Linked DNA regions of Homo sapiens: region 2 is linked to region 1. Evidence: fine-mapped expression QTL. Tissue or cell type: whole blood. Region 1 holds a variant in brackets; the other region holds the start of a gene. All regions are shown on one strand. Distances are between the middles of the regions.

The links. PIP is the estimated chance that this variant, and not a neighbour inherited with it, causes the effect.
Region 2: it holds the start of TMEM65, and the variant in region 1 is fine-mapped to the expression of TMEM65 in whole blood (TOPMed, PIP above 0.99).

The regions. Positions count from the first base shown.
Region 1 is chr8:124,193,061-124,201,164 of GRCh38, forward strand. It overlaps LOC124902015 (a long non-coding RNA gene), which reads left to right. Exons shown (of 2, transcript XR_007061086.1): 2 at 1,040-1,330. It overlaps LOC101927588 (a long non-coding RNA gene), which reads right to left. Exons shown (of 3, transcript NR_125420.1): 3 at 1-484. Among named protein-coding and RNA genes, the nearest start is that of FER1L6-AS2, 26 kb to the left of the region's middle. RefSeq lists enhancers at 2,748-2,807, 2,838-3,077, 3,118-3,167 and a silencer at 3,358-3,407. The variant G/C (reference allele first, on the strand shown) is at 4,881.
Region 2 is chr8:124,369,127-124,377,230 of GRCh38, forward strand. TMEM65 (transmembrane protein 65) reads right to left here and starts at 3,575. Exons shown (of 7, transcript NM_194291.3): 1 at 2,728-3,575. The coding sequence starts at 3,031. RefSeq lists silencers at 2,598-2,647, 2,658-2,787, 2,838-2,967, 3,098-3,367, 3,488-3,717 and enhancers at 3,442-3,736, 3,948-4,137.

The DNA.
Region 1 (8,104 bases):
TCTGGGAGATTCCCGATGTTTTTCTGATTGCTTCTGTAAAAGGACCCAAGGGCTCTCCTTTCTGGAAGATGCTTGCTCTCTAGATGAGGCATGGCCCACTCTGGTCTGGGCCCCTGGACACACTCTCTTACCACCCTTCAGCACACTTCTCCTCTCCACTGAGTAGTAAGACACCAAGTGCTCAGCTGTGGCTATGACCTATGGAAAGGTCCATGGCATCTACCCAGCCTTCCGTCACCAGGGTCCACCATCTGAGACTCATGGGGCCTGGACAGAAGGCAGTGCTGATGTGCCCAGGCCAGGGCACTGGGGCACCATGGGACTCAGGCAAAGTCTCAGTGTAATGAAGACCTGCGCTGCCTGGCCTTGTCCTCTGTGCATCCATTTTCTTGTGGCAGCACGGCTCAGGATTTCCAGATCATGCTCTTTCAAATACCATCATCACATCTGGGAAGTGCTGACACATGTAGAGGGAAAAAAATGTCTGGAAGGAAATACACAAAATGTTATCACTGTGGATTTCTATAGGGTAGTGGGTAACTTTAGTTTTTACATTTGAAATGAAGCATTTTATAAATATTTGTTTTCCCTAAGTGGTTTTAAATTTTCTTTTCACTGATCTGCATTTTCCAATTTCACTATAATCAATTTACAGTCTTTTGTAGTTGAAAAAGTTATATATATATATATACATATATATATAGCTACTCCAGTCATAAAATGACATGCAGCCTTCCAGCTAGAGCAGGACCAGTTTAAAAAAGAAAAATTCCTGGTCAAAAATGTCAAACTCTGCAATTTTAATTCCACATTAAGTGTTTTCTATCACTTATCCATATCTTATAGTTTCTGTAGATCTGTATCTTACAGTTTCTTTACAAAAAGGCCACACTATATTAACTTATTTTAATCCAGTGCTTTTTGACCTTGGAACCTGTTTTATCAAATAACACCTAAAAATAGCCTATAGAATTGATCGTTCTAGCAAACATGCTTTTGGAAACATTGATCTGGTCCAATTTTGCTTCCCCATTTTCAGCCAATAGAACTAAGGTCCAGAGAGATGAAGGGACTCATTCAGAGAGTCACACAACCATGAAGAAACCAAGTTTGAAGTTGAGCTAAGGTCCTCTCATGCAAGACCACTGTCAAATCCTGCTGGTCAAGCACACGCCACTCCCAGGACACAAACACATTGTTGTGTCTGTGAACAGTGTCCCCCAGTGTTGTGAAGGACACACCAGTGTGGCTGTACCACACTCAATTCACACCATTACCAAGGTTGAACAGTTGAATAAAGTATTTTCTGTTATTACTTGAAGAAGTAAAACAATGTCAAAGCTAATTGCTGCAATTATCAAAGTAGCTTTTAAGAAGGTCCTTGGCCAAGCTTGGTGGCTCACGCCTGTAATCTTAATACTTTAAGAGGTCAAGGCGGGCAGGGGGCGGTCACTTGAGCCTAGGAGTTCAAGGCCAGCCTGGACAACATAATAAGACCCTTTCTCTATAAAAAATATTTTAAAATTAGCGAGGCTTGATGGCATGCGCCTATAGTCCTAGATACTCAGGAGGCTGAGGCAGGAGGATCACATGAGCCCAGGAGGTTGAGGCTGCAGTGAGCTATGCTAGCACCACTACACTTTAGCCTTGGCAGTAGACCCTGTCTCCAAAAGAGGAAGAAGGTCCTGAGAAGGCAGATATAGTGGCTTTGCTCTGCTACAAACTTGGGTTCTCAGTGTAGGATCCTGGCTGGCTGACTGAAGTATAGTTTTGAGAATTAGAATACAGTATTTGTCTCTCTTTTTCTGCTTTTCTTCCTTCCTCCTTAAAAATTAAAAGACACTGAGTGCCTCAGAAGTGTGCAAAGCATTGTGCTCTAAGACAGGCCTCATGGGAGCTATTGTCAAAGCCATTGCTATTAGCACAGGGTTCTCTAACCTGCTGAGGAATTCCATTTTCAGGACAAATTTCACTGCATTTAATTTTGGCTTTCTTACCCACTGCACCAAGTGAGCCGAACCCCCAATGGTAATTAAAATGACAAGTACATTTCTTTCTCTTCTTCCGTCTCACCGTTCCGCATCCCAAACAGACTCAGTACCCCTGGAAAGCGTCCACTTTTTTGTCCCACTCTGTCAGCCCAGACATGGAAATCTTTCTTTACTTCTCTGAACCAGGAAGCCAGCCTTGCTTCCTTTTCTGTACCATGTCCAAGCTGTGACTGAGTCCTGCCAAGTCCCCCCGCCACTTCCCTCAAATCCCTCCATTGCTCCTGACATCCGTGTCCTCTACTTCAGTGCCGTCATTGCATCACTGCAACAGCCTCCCCCGACTGTGTCCCCGCTCCCTGCCAAAAATGCCTTGGCCTCTCCTGCCTCCCAGCCTCTGTTCTGTCCACTGGCTATCCACGCCCCTCCTCCCTCCTGCCCACAGCTCCTTCCCATCCTTTAGTCTTCGGTTTAAGTCGGGATTTTCCTCTACCTCCTTCCTCTTTATTTTCAAAACTGATTGCCAGAGTTTAGGCTGGTGCAAAAGTCATTGTGGTTTTTGCCATTAAAAGTGGTTGTGAGGCCGGGTGCGGTGGCTCATGCCTGTAATCCCAGCACTTTGGGAGGCCAAGGCGGGCAGATCACCTGAGGTTAGGAATTTGAGACCAGCCTGACTAACATGGTGAAACCCCATCTCTACTAAAAATACAAAAAAATTAGCCAGGAATGGTGGCGGGTGCCTGTAATCCCAGCTACTTGGGAGGCTGAGGCAGGAGAATTGCTTGAACCCAGAAGGTGGAGGCTGCAATGAGCTGAGACCATGCCAGCCTGGTCAACAATAATGAAACTGCAGCTCCAAAAAAAAAAAAAAAAAAAGTGGTTGCAAAAGCCGCAGTTACTTCTGCACCAACCTAATACATTTTTCTTTGTGACTATGTGCTTAATCCTGTGAACTACCTGAAGGCCTAGACAGCATCTCTCGATTGACCTCTATAACCCCAGGGCATGATACCACTTCCTGCTTCTGCTTCACTCCTACTGCTGTGCTTTGAGCAAGCTGTTTAACTTCTCTTACTGTTTGAAATATCAAAAGGGGCTGCTGAGCCCTACCTCACTTGTTGTTTAGAGAATTAAGTCAGGCAGTTTGCAAAGTGCCTAAAAAATGCTTGGTCCTTAGTAGGTAGGAATGCCAGTTCCCTTCCCTCTCTTCTTGGTAGGGGCTATATTGTTATTAGATGGGACGCTTAATGGTAAGCAACAGACACTGAATTTGAGCAAAAACACAAAAAGGGAAGTGAGTAGCTGGTGTTTGTAAACTGCAGAAGTACGGCAGAGAGTAAGACCAGGGACTCAAAGGCCCTCAACTATCTGCTTTTCTCTCCCTCTCATTTTCTCCCTCTTGCATTGTGTGTGTGTGTGTGTGTATGAGTGTGTGTATGTGTGAGTGTTTGTGTGTGCATGTGTGTGAGTGTGTGTATGTGTGTGAGTGTGTGTATGTGCGTGTGTGCATATGCATGTATGTGTGTGAGAGTGTGTGTATGTTGTGTGAGTGTGTGTATGTGTGTGAGTGTGTGTATGTGTGTGAGTGTGTGTGTATGTGTGTGTGAGTGTGTGTGTGTGTGTGTCTTATCTCTGCTTCTCTGGCTATCCCTTTTATTTTCTTAACTGTCCACTTTTTTTTTTTTTAAAGACAGAGTCTCTGTCACCCAGGCTGGAGTGCAGTGGCACAGTCTTGGCTCACTGCAAATTCTGCCTCCCAGGTTCAAGCAATTCTCCTGCCTCAGCCTCCGGAGTAGCTGGGATTGCAGGTGTGCACCACCATGCCTGGCTAATTTTTGTATTTTTAGTAGAGACGGGGTTTCACCATCTTGAGCAGGCTGGCCTTGAACTCCTGACCTCAGGTGACTCACCCGCCTTGGCCTCCCAAAGTGTTAGGATTACAGGCATGAGCCACCGCACCCAGCCTCAACTGCTGATCTTTCTGAGGCAGGAGACTGGTCTCTACAGCACTTGGCCTTCCCTTATAGCTTCACTTTCCAAGAAAAACAGAAAAAAATAAAAGCTCTTCTTTCCCAAGGTCCATTTACAGGAATCCCAGGAAAGAACTCTGATTGCCCTGACTGTGGTCATTAGCCATTCTCCTAACTATCACTAGGGTCAGAGGAGTGCAGACAGACAGCGCTTACTCAGAGGGGGACGGGATGAGGAACAATACTCCTAAAAGAAGGTGGCTGCATTTCCACCGAGAAGCGGACAAGTTCCAGGCAGACACCACAATGAACATCCACCAAGAGAAACCCGATTTAACACAACAGTGGATGCCATGGCACTGTGATAATTACAGTTGCTTCTGCAAGCTATTTATATGCCTTCCTCCCTGGTTACATTTCTGGAATCTTGGAAACAGAGACAATGCCTTTGTTATGGTCCTTTCTCCTATGCTAGCAGAGTCTGGGGCACACGAGGCTGTGAATAGTGCCTGAATAAATGAATGAACAAAGGTAAGCACCAAAGCTTCCGATGCTTCTCTTTCCAGCTACAAATTGCTCCTATGATCTGGGTTCGGGAAAACAGTTACATAATGGCCCTCAAAGACTCTCCTTAGCTGTTTATGTCTTAAATGGTCTCACTGAGACTTGCCCACTCTCCTTTACCTTGCTTGGCTTCTTCCGTGAGTTTCCATGTTCCTATTTATAAATGTCACTTGGGCCCAGCTCTTTGGGCCTGATTCTCTCCTCACTGCCTCCCTTTCTTCCTCGTAGGGGCAGAATGCTTTGGTTCACCTGAAATGGCTTTTCAGAGGAGGTACAGCTGTTCGATGTGTTACGGCCCCATCCAGTCCCCTGTGAAAGAGGCTGCAGCATTTCCTCACTGCCTATTTAGCCACACCCC[G/C]CCAGGACAGAGCGTAACCTAGCAGCTTCCGGATTTAATGCATGGAATGATCAACAGGCTGCAAGAGGAAGTGACTGGGCCAGGGGCCCAGAGTCACAAGCTCATTCAGTCCTAGGCCTTGTAAATTCCAAGTCCCTGGCCATGGATGAGCCTTGGACTGCTTTTCTCAAGCCCTAGAGGTGAAGTCAGCCACCTTCCATATCCTAGGCTCATGCAGGGTGCTGGGACATTGATAACTCAGACCACTTCCTGCCCTTGAAAGGCTGAGAAGAAAATTCGTTTTACCGCAATGCAGAGGTCTCAGACCATCAGTTGCACAGCATAGAAGAGATTAGAATCCTGAATATGCCCTTTGCACCTGGAAAGACCCTTGTTTGACTCCAGAAAACCCTCCAGGGCTCCTTTACCAAGTACCAGCTCATAGAAACAGCTAAAGAAAAATCTATTAAAGTCATTTATTTACAATCATAGAAATTTTAGAGCTAGAGGAAAATTCAAGGTAATCTGGTCCCAAACTGTTAGTTCACAGGAGAGGAAGCTAGATCTACAATTACACAATTATACCATCACTGTGGTGTGCAAACTGTCCCCAAGACTGTCATCTTAATAATGCATGTCATTTGCTGTTGGAAAAAAAAAATACATTGAATATTTAGGTGAGGCCCCAAGCTACACATACCATGATCACATTCGATCCTCCCAATAGTAAAATGGGTGTGTTTATTCCATCTAATAAATGAGGAAACAGAAGCACAGAGACATTAAGTGACATGCTCAAGGTCACACAGCTGGTAAATGATGGATTAAGGATTTGAACTCAGACTCAATTGTTTTCAAAGCATCTATTCCAATGAGAATGAAAATGTTGGCCAGGCACAGTGTCTCACGCTTGTAATCCTAGCACTTTGGGAGGCCGAGGCGGGTAGATCACCTGAGGTCAGGAGTTCTATACCAGCATGGACAACATGGCGAAATCCCGTCTCTACTAAAAATATAAAAATTAGCCAGGCATGGTAGCGCATGCCTGTAATCCCACCTACTCGGGAAGCTGAGAATCGTTTGAACCCGGGAGGTGGAGGTTGCAGTGAGCTGAGATTGCACCACCACACTCCAGCCTGTGCAACGGGAGTGAGACTCCATCTCAAGAAAAAAAAAAAAGAAAGAAAGAAAGAAAGAAAATGTATTGAATTAATGTTACTGAAATAAGGCCAGAAAACCTAGATTCTATTTCTAAATTTACCACTAACAAGTTGTAGGAACTGGGAAAGACCTTTCATTCACTGGGACCTAGCTTCCTGTTCCATAAATGGAGAGAACAGAGCTGGGTCAGTGATGGCAATATGTGACCACTTTCTCATCCTATGCCCAAGACAGATGTGACTGTAAGACCAGGGTACCATTTCTGCCTGAGCTCAAAGTAGGCTTCTAATGTAGAGCTTTATCCAGCCCCTCCCAAACAATTGCTATTGGCACAAATAAAATGCATTTGCCACCCCTTGGCCCAACGAGCTCTCAGATCCATTCCAACTCTATTTAATTCATGAAAATTCTGGCCCTGGATTTTGTCATTTCTCTGCAGTGTTGGAAGAAAAATAGGAACCGCTTATCTGTGATTCCACAGAGCAGAATCCTGCCAGAAGCAGATCCCTGCTGTTCTCCTGACAGATCATGGGCTGTGCTCAGAACTTCAGGGGCAGGGGTGTAGGGGCCTGCCACAAATGACAGGAGGCCACGATTCCATTTCGTCTTCTTCCTTAACTCTGATCCACATGAATGGAAAGCTTTCCTTGCTCTGACATTACTGGAACATCACATAGTTCTCTTATGAAATGAATCTCTATTGCTGAAGTGGCTTGATATCAACAATAAGGCAGCCAAAGAGGTACATGGAAAAACCCCACTGTCTTCCCATGCTGATTGGCTTACAGGATGAGGGGGTGATGGAGGGCCAGTGAGTCAGAGCTATTTCTACAGAAGACATCCAGAAACACCAAGTTAAGTCAAGTTGCTGAGTCTGTGGTGAGCCCAAGACAGGAGGTAACAGAAGAATGGAAAATCAGGACAGCATTGAAATCTGATGCTGAGTTGACAAGTTGCTGTCAAATGCCAAGCACAGAGGACAGCAGGAAGTGAGCCAACTGCAGAGAGCTGAGCACCTGGCCAGATCATCAGGCTACCTCTGTCCAGACCTCAGCAGTGCCCAGGCCTTCACGTAGCAGTCACAGGTCACTGCATCCTGCCAAAAAAAGGCAGTCCATTCTTCAAGGTGTCTGTTTGAGTCTAGTGTCAAATTACCCCAGATTGTCAGCAAGTGCCTGTGGCCCTGGCTTGCCCTGGTAGATGAGTCAGCCCAGCTGTGAAGAAAGCCCTGCCGGGCCCTGGGAGGCCAACGCATGCCAGCTGAGGCAAGAAGACAGCATCAGCCCTGAAGCCTGTGTGGACAAGGAGCCCACTCCCTAACTGAGGCCTGGGACCCCTAACCCCACCCCGACTTCAGATGGGGCTGTGTTTCCAGGACTGCCTCATACCCCATTTCAAATCAGGCTACTCAACAGTGACATTTAGTAACAGAAATCATGAAGATTCATTAGATGACTCAGAGAAAAAACAAACAAACACTCTCTCCAAGAAAGAGAAATTCACAGGAAGGGGCCACATCCATCCAGTTCTGCCCTTCCCGTTTCTCTAGCTCAGTGGTTCTCAAAGTGTGGTCCCTGGACCAGCAGGAGTGACAGATTTTTGCCACGACACCACTTCAGTAATGTTAATTAAATATATTTCCATTCTTTTAAGAGTCAACATAGCTTAGTGAGAAGAGCAGAAGCTCTGGAGCTTGTTAGAAATGCCCCACCCCAGACCTCTTGAATCAGAAATACTGGGGTGGGGCCCAGCCATCGGTGGCCTAACCAGCCTTCCAGGCGATTCTGAAGCCTGCTGAAGTTTGAGAACAAGGACGTCTCCAGCTGAACCAGCCACCCCTCAGGAGTAGAGGGAATTCCTGCTCCCCGGCCCAACTTTGTTATGGAAACCTCCCAGGACAATCTGCATCAGCGAGCTGATCCTAGTCCCCAGCAGCAGGTGACAAAAGGATCTGGCCTCAGGACTGTGTCATCCCTAGGACGTGATAACAGGCCATTGTGGCTGGGGCATATTAGTGGGTGCAAAAGGAGATATAAATCTCGTATTTGGGAAAGGAATGGGAGGGACTGAAGAGCAAGGAAAAC
Region 2 (8,104 bases), 180 kb after region 1:
GGTCTGTTTCTGGAAGAAGAGAGATCAGGCTGAGCAGGTAAATTGAAGGCGCAAACTCAACTTTTTTTTAAATTGGGAAAGAAATTGGTTTGTAATTTTAAAAATCACAATATTCTATTTAACTATGATAAGATATCCCACAAGGTCTGCCTTATCTATTACGAACTGATTCCAAAGCTTTATCTCATCACAGATTATATCACATGCCTACTGATAAACATATAAGAAAGATAAGGGCAAATGTGCCAAATTTCAACAGCAGATTCCACTGCCATATCAAAGCATGGATGATATTTTTTCAGTAACATTTCCATACCAAATCCAAAACACTTCATTAGTTTATACAAGCACCCTTTCCAAAGACACACAAGATTGCCTATGGCAAGAAATAGCCCTTTAAATAGAATTAATTTTGTTAGAAAGTACACTTAGTACACACACACAATACATCGGTTGAGTACTTCAAAACATTATTCAAAAAGCAACAATAAAAGAAAACATGGGAGTTTTTCATTTATCTGGCTGGAAAAAAATTGTTGATTTCAGCAATGGAATGAGCTGTACGCATTCCCAACATAATAAAATCCCTTTTACCTTAATGATTAATGAATAAGGTAATTTCCTAAGTGATGATTCTAGTTATCTCCATAACTATATGTATTGATACTGAAAACAGTAAGTGAACACCAAGACTACATACACTAACAAAGCAGCAGCATCTGTGTCATTTGATTCATAGGACAATCATTTTGTCATCGACATCAGCAAAAATAGCTGATTTAAACTTTGATGTTCTTTAGCATATAAAGAGGAGAGATAAGCATCTGACTAACCATTGTTTCAAATATCCTTGACTGTTTCTCCTGAGCAAAGAAGACAATTTAAATTACTAATTTCTCTCTCATATTAGTAACATAACTAAGTTTAATTGATGCTAATGATCTCCATTGACTAAAGTGCTTAGGTCCTTTTCAGAATATTTAAAACCACGTTAAATTTAAAAATATTATCTTTATTAGGAAATGTAGCATTGCTACTGCAATACTGCTGGCATGTAAAAAATAATAATGTATGAGAAAAAAATTATTCAGTCACCTTGCAGGACATGTTTTTCAAGAACTGCCACAAAACTATATTCATAGGGCCCTCCAATCTTGTAACTTGTTGACAATGCAGAATTTCCAAGAAATTACTTGGAAAAGGTAAAATGTGTGTTCAAATAGTCTTGTCAGTGCAGAAAGATTCAAAAGTTAATGTTCTAGTACATGACTGACTATATTATTTTTCCAAGGAGCATATTTTCAGAATTGACTATTTTTAAACTGCATACTGAGTGCACACATAGATTACAAATGTGCTAGTGTTTCATTATGATTGCATATAACATCATGATTACACATTGAATAACGGAATTGATCGGACGTTACATTTTCCTGTAAAAGCACTGTGGGTAAACAATGTCTGGAATCAATCATCCACTATAAATTGGTCCACAATTTCCTGAACTGAGGGGGAAAACATCTGATTAAAAGCCACAACTAAAACAAGTTTCTGAAGTAGTACAGATAACGTCCTGCTTACATGAGGTAGATAATTCTTTCCTCCATTCCTGCACATCAGCTAAAGATATACTTTCAAGTCTGGCAAATCAAATGGCATGATCCGAATCAATGTGCTCTACACTTTGGAATCTATGAGATGTTTATGTACCTACCAAGTTTAGAGAGGAGAGTAAACTTTTTTAAAACTTTCAAACACATCAGAATGTAATACAAACTGAAGCAATGTGTTTTGTTTACATAACTGTATTTAAGTGGCAGAAATATTTTAAGACATCCATTTTAGTCGTTTGCTCCTTTCATCCTTTTTATTTTCTGAACTTTTAGCTTTTTCACCTAGACTCAAATTCTGCCCTACCCCATTCTGGACTCCTTTTAGAAATATCCTATTTTAACATGCTAGTTTAAAAATCGTTTTGCTTTCATCATTCCCAATTACTTTTGAGCATCAGTCTGACTTTTACTACAGAGCCACAGATTTCCAAAAAATATACCTCCTTATTTATTTCATTCTTTCAACCTCTGGGAAAAACCAAAACTGGAGTTTAACTTGAATCTGTCTTTCCATTTCTGGAGAAAATGTTTCCTTTGGCTGCTGAAATTAACGCAATCAGACATGTGTGGAAACAAGCAGCTATGAGCATCCCTGACTTTCGAAGCTACACCCCTTCTTTTGGCTACCCACCCATACGTCTTCATTTGATAACCGTTCAAAAAGTTTCTTCCTGCCAGGCGGGTTTGCAGCACTTTCTCGGAGCAGGCACAGCATGCCACCTGCACGGGTGCACGCTCGCAAGAAAGCAGCAAGGGCTAAGGGACAGGAGGGCTGGGGAGGGGAGGCACGGGGCAAATCAAAACTCAATCCCAACAGCGTTAACTGGCATTTTAGGCCGAAGCTCCGGATTCGGAGGCTGGGGAGGAAGTAGCTAGCGCTGGCCTCGGCTGCCTGGCACGACCCGCGCCCGTCCTACCTGCCTGGGGGAAACTCGGGCGGCGGAAAGTCTCCCCGCCCCCAGCCGTCCCAGGCGTGGGGCCAGACAGGCGAGGGGGGCGGAAGGGGGGCGGCGGCGGGGGTCCAAGATCCAGGGCCGCAGCGGGCTCCCGGTGGGCTGGCGAGAAGAGGAGGGCGTCGGGGCCCCCGGGCTCGCCCCCCACCTGCCCCCCTTACCTTGGGCAATGGCAATAGACTCGAAGCGGTGCAGCTCTTTGAGCAGGCAGCTCCTCTCCGTGGAGTGCAGGCTGTAGATGAAGTCGCGCGCGCCCTGCGCCGTGTTCAGCGCCTCCATGGGCTCCTTCTTGGGGTGCGTGCCCAGCCGCCTGGGGCCGCCCGGCAAGCCGCCGGGGGGCGCGAGCGCCAGCAGCCCCCGCCCGCAGCAGCACCAGGACGGCGGGCGGGGCGCGGCGGCGGCGGCCGGGCCCGGCCTCAGGCTGCGCGCGGTCCGGCTCCTCAGCAGCGGCAGCAGCCGGGACATGGCGAGCTGAGGAGCTGGGACCCCCGCGGCCGTCCGGCAAGGCGGTTTCTGGCGCGGCTGAGGCGAGAAGGAGCTGGGCTCAGCTCGACCCCGCCCCGAGGTCCTCCTGCCAGGCAGCCGAGGCGCCGGGCACCATGCACTCCGCGGGCCCGCGCGGCTCTCGCCTCCTGTTCCGTCCCCACTTCCTTTCCAAAAGGCCCGCGGCGGCTCCCGCCCCTCCGATGGGAAAAACTTTCTCTGAGACGGCCGGGCCCGGACAGCGCCCGGAGAGGGCGGGCGGTCGGTGCGGGCGGGCGCCTCCCGGCTGAGGAGGAGCGGCGCGGGCGGGCGGGGCGGGCTAGTGTGTGTCTCTGTCAGTCTGATCTTCCAGAGGATGAGTCAGCCACGCACCGCCCTCCTCCAGCGCCGCCCTACTCTCCCGCCAGCTTTCTCACCCTCTAGCCTCCCCACGTCCCCACTCTGTAAGGTTCCCGAGCCCTCAAAGCAGCCGCGCTCCCGAGCCGCAGCCGCCGCCGCCGCCGCTACCCCTAGCGGCAGCAGAAGTGGGAACGGGGCGGGGCGAAAGGGGAAGGAGGTGCGGGGGGGCGGGGAGGTGTGTGAGCGAGGCTGCGCAGGCGCAGTCTGCAGGCTCTCGGGCCGCCCTCCCTCCTAGGGGAGGAGCGTGCACACGCGTCCCCTCCCGCGCTGGTGCGTGAAGGTGGAAGGAGGTAGGGTGCGCCACCCTGTGCTGGCGTTAAACCTACAGATCGGAATAGGGAAAACGAGCTCTGGACCCCTCGCCCGCCAGGGTAGTACAGCTGCCACCCGGCCCCCAACCTGGGGCCACATCTGGAGCTTGTTCTGAAAGGTGCCCCGGCGTGCGGCCCCGCTCTGGACAGGCGGAGAGCTGCGCTGCCACCCCAGCCCCGACGGGATCACGGCGCTCTGCTCCGGAACGAAGCGCCCCAGCTGCGCCCTTCGCCAAGTCAGCGCCCACCGCCGCTTCGGCCGAGCAGGCCGGCTCTAATGCAGTCGCTCTGGGCGCCCCAAAGAGAAAGCGAAGCCAGTTCCACCCCTGCCCAAGGAGGGTCTGAGACTGAGCCCTTGACACGAGAACAGTCCTCCCCGTTCAGATTCCAGCAGCTGGCATGCAAATTGTTAATGCTAGAGGCAGAGGCAAGAATGTCATAGACCTTTCCTAGTGGTTGCTTGTGATTTTTTTGTCTCTGTGCTAAAGCGGGAAGAATAATTTGATTGTCCACGATTTCCCCTGATCCAGGTCCTAGGCATCTTTCAAGGCCCAGGTGAAAGGTCTCCTACTTCATTAAGCTGTCCCTAATCTCTTCTAAGGGAGGAGATCTCTGCTTTATCTGAACCTGTCTAATGACGCTTAGGCACCCTTAGAGAATAAATCCACTTAATAAATCTGCTGGAGCGTAATCAAGATCTAAATCCCATCCTTATCATAAACAGTGCTGCACTCAGCCCGGAAACTTGTAGGTAGTAAATGTGCTACATGTAAGTAGAATATTAAACTGAATAATGGAGGATTGTTACCACTAAAGCCTCCTACTTCTCTAACTCTGGTTCTCAAAGTGTGTCCCAGAGCTTTTTAGACGTGAGAAATAGTGGACCCCACTTCACACCTCCTGAATCAGAACGTAGACATTGGACCCAGTCATGTGGGTTTTAACAAGCCCTCCAGTAATAACACACACGAAAGCTTGAGAAACACTGATGTCTCTTAAACATTGAAAGGAATCGCTTCTTTTTTAAATTCCAAGGTGATGCCTCTGTGATGTAATAACAACAATTAAGAATGCTCTCTGTGGAAATGAAAGCTTTTTGAGTGCATAAAGTATATCTTCCTTGTCTTTGAAACCCCCTTCATTCCCTAGTGTGCACTGGAATCCTCTGCAGAGCTATTTCAGTCTCAGGCTCATGGGAGTACCACCCCATCCCCCCCACAATTTCCTACCCCCAAGATATTCTGATTCACTGGGGTGGATCACAGGCCCCAGACCTGGGAAGTGAGGTTTGAAAAAAGTTCTTCAGTAAGAACCCATTCCCAACCACCTCCAGAATAGTAGTTTAGTGTGTAGCCTCCAGAGACAGACTGTGGAAAGTTCGATCCCTGGATCAACCGTCTCCTAACTATGTGTTAGTATTAGATTGTTATAGTAGTGATCCCCAATGAACTACACCTTCTATTATCCGCTCCGTTGTGTGGTCCACCTCTACATTGACTGTGGGCTTGGCTATTTGACTTGTTTTGGTCAATAAATAGGAGGACATCATAAACGTGATATGATACATGTTTGCTCATTGGGGTTTGCTGTAATGCTTTTGCTATATTACTATAGAATATTTAATTCTATTATAAAACAAGAGAAACTAAAATGTAGAAGCAAGTCACTTATGAGAAAGGTTACACATAGAATGAATGGATATGGGTTGAACATAGATAAAAAGGATGGAACAAATGAAAATGCTGCTTTAGATAGAGGCAGAAAGACAAAGTGGACTTTTAAGTATTAATAAGGTACAGATCATACTATCTTCAGATTTACAGCCATGTCATCCCTAAATTGCATACCTACTGGTAACACCCATTGTAACGCTATTATGGCCTCATGTAATCTCTTCCCAAGAAAAGCAGATAAACCCCCAGCTACAAAGCCAACTAATGCCAGCTACCATTATAACCAGACACACTTGCCCCTCAGCTCTGTAACAGAACAGACATATGTTGAGCCCAGGCCCCTTCAGTCTGTTGAGTCACCTTACTTACTCTCCAGTCTGGTCCTTGTAGCCACACTATGTGCTGAGAAGACTGGATGGTGGAGAGGGATAAGACATGAGAACATTGCATAAAACAGAATTTAGGTGCTATGGTCCTTCAGCCTATCCTAAGCTTATTAATCTACCCTATCTCTTTCCCCTTGCTTCTCACTCTGTTTTATGTTGGTTGGTAAACTCTTCTGGTTATTATTGCTGCTCTTTGGGTAGACACATTATGCCAAAACTTAGTAGTTTAATTAGCCAATTTATTTTGCTCTTAATTTTGAGGCTCAGAAATTGGGGAAGAACTTACTTGGACAGTTATTTTATTGGAGTCGTTTATGTAGTATCAATCAGATTTCAACACAACTGCTGTCATTTGAAAGTTCAGCTGGGCTGAATAGCTAAGATGGCTCACTGACATGGCTGACTGGTAGCTCAAATGGGGCTGAGAACCAGAGCACTTTCACACAGCCACTCCAGCATGGTGATCTTCTCACCAGACAGCTGGCTTTCCCCAGAGTGAATGTCTAAAAAGAAGCAGGCTTGTGGCGTTTTCTGACCTATCCTTGGAAGTCACACAGTATCACTTCCACTGTATTCTACTGGCTATAAGCCAACCCCTAGGGCCAGCCCCTATTCAAGGGAAAGGGATATAAACCCCACATCTTAATAGGAGTAATGCCAAAACCTTTGAGGATACGTTTTAGAACCACCAGATAATGTGATTTAAGCTTCTTAATTTGGCCTATAAGCCTATCTATTTCGTGACCTGTAGGTGTATACATGGAGGCTGCCATTGCATCAAGGTAATTTTCCACATGGAAAAATTGCCTCGAAGACATTTACCTTTTGGAATCCAGCTGCTGCATAAAGAAGTCTGATGTATCCTGCTGGAAAGACCAAATGGAGGAGGAGGCCGTAGCCAACAGCCCCAGCTAACTGCCAAACATGCATGACAGCATCTTGGACCATCCAGGCTCAATTGAGCCCCAGATGACAGCATTGGGGTTGAGAGCACTAGCTCTAGACTCAGACTGCCTGGATTTGAGTCCTTATACTGTCATTTCTTAGCTGTGTAACCTTGAGCTGATCAACCTTTCCGTGGTTGCCCATCTGTTTAATGGGAATAAGAACATGTTCAGTTTGCTCACCTGTTAAATATAGATAAGGGCATCTGCTTTGTAATGTTATAGTGAAACCAAATAATACATGTAAAGCATTTCAAACAGCACCTGATACATGACAAGCATGCAATAAATACTAGCTATTATTATCTAAATGCCCACGGACCTCTCAAATCTCTACGATTATGTCTTTGGACCCTCATTTGAGAAATGCCCACCTAGCTATCTGTCATTTAATACATGGATGTGTATTAACTGCATCCCCTAACCACTTCCTTCTCTGAACACCTGAATATCCTAAATATGAATGGATGAAGGATCTAGGGAGGGAGATAATTTGGGGATCGTTTATGGGGCTGTGGAGCAGGTCTAGATGCAGGTGGCAAAGGGGAGTTTCCGAAGAAATATGATGGTGCTGAAGAGGAAATGCTAGCAGGCTGGAGGGGCTACAGAAATGGAAGATAGAAGGAAGGAAAGCCCAGAAGGCAAACTTGGCCTGAGTTCAGCCCAGCCTGTTCTTCGCTTTTAAAGAGGACAACTGTCATACCTCGGTTAACAATCACAGTTTCCTCCTCATGAAAAATTGCTGCTGAATCATCAGTCCATGGTAAGCTGCATCATATAAATACGCTCCAGAGTTCCTGGCTTCCCTGTTGCTGGCAGGGCACACAGCTGTTTGCTGCCTGCCATTGATGAAACTTTATACACCCAGCTATTCTGCTTTAAAATTCTTGAAATTGTTGCTTTACCTAGTGGACCCTTTAATCATTTCTTCTGCCCATATTTTTGCAATTTCCTCATTGCACTTCTCATCCATCAAGCTCCTGCCTTAGTATTCTGACCCCTGGAAGGCCTCTGCCCCATCACAGTGGTGGTGAATAAATTGTTTCTTCACAATGGAAACCACAAAGTCTTATTAGAACAATTAAAGAAGACTTAAATAAGTGGAGAGAAATACCAATTCAAGATTGAAAAACTCAGTAGTATAAGATGTCAATTCTCCCTAAATGCATTTGTCAGGGTTCTCCAGAGAAACACAACCAATAGGATATAGAAATATATACAGAATGAAATTAATTATGAGGAATTGGCTGGTATGGTTATGGAGGCTGAGAAGTTTCATTATCTGCTGTCTGCAAGCTGAAGGCCCAGGAAAGCTGGTGGTATAATTTAGTCCAATTCTGAT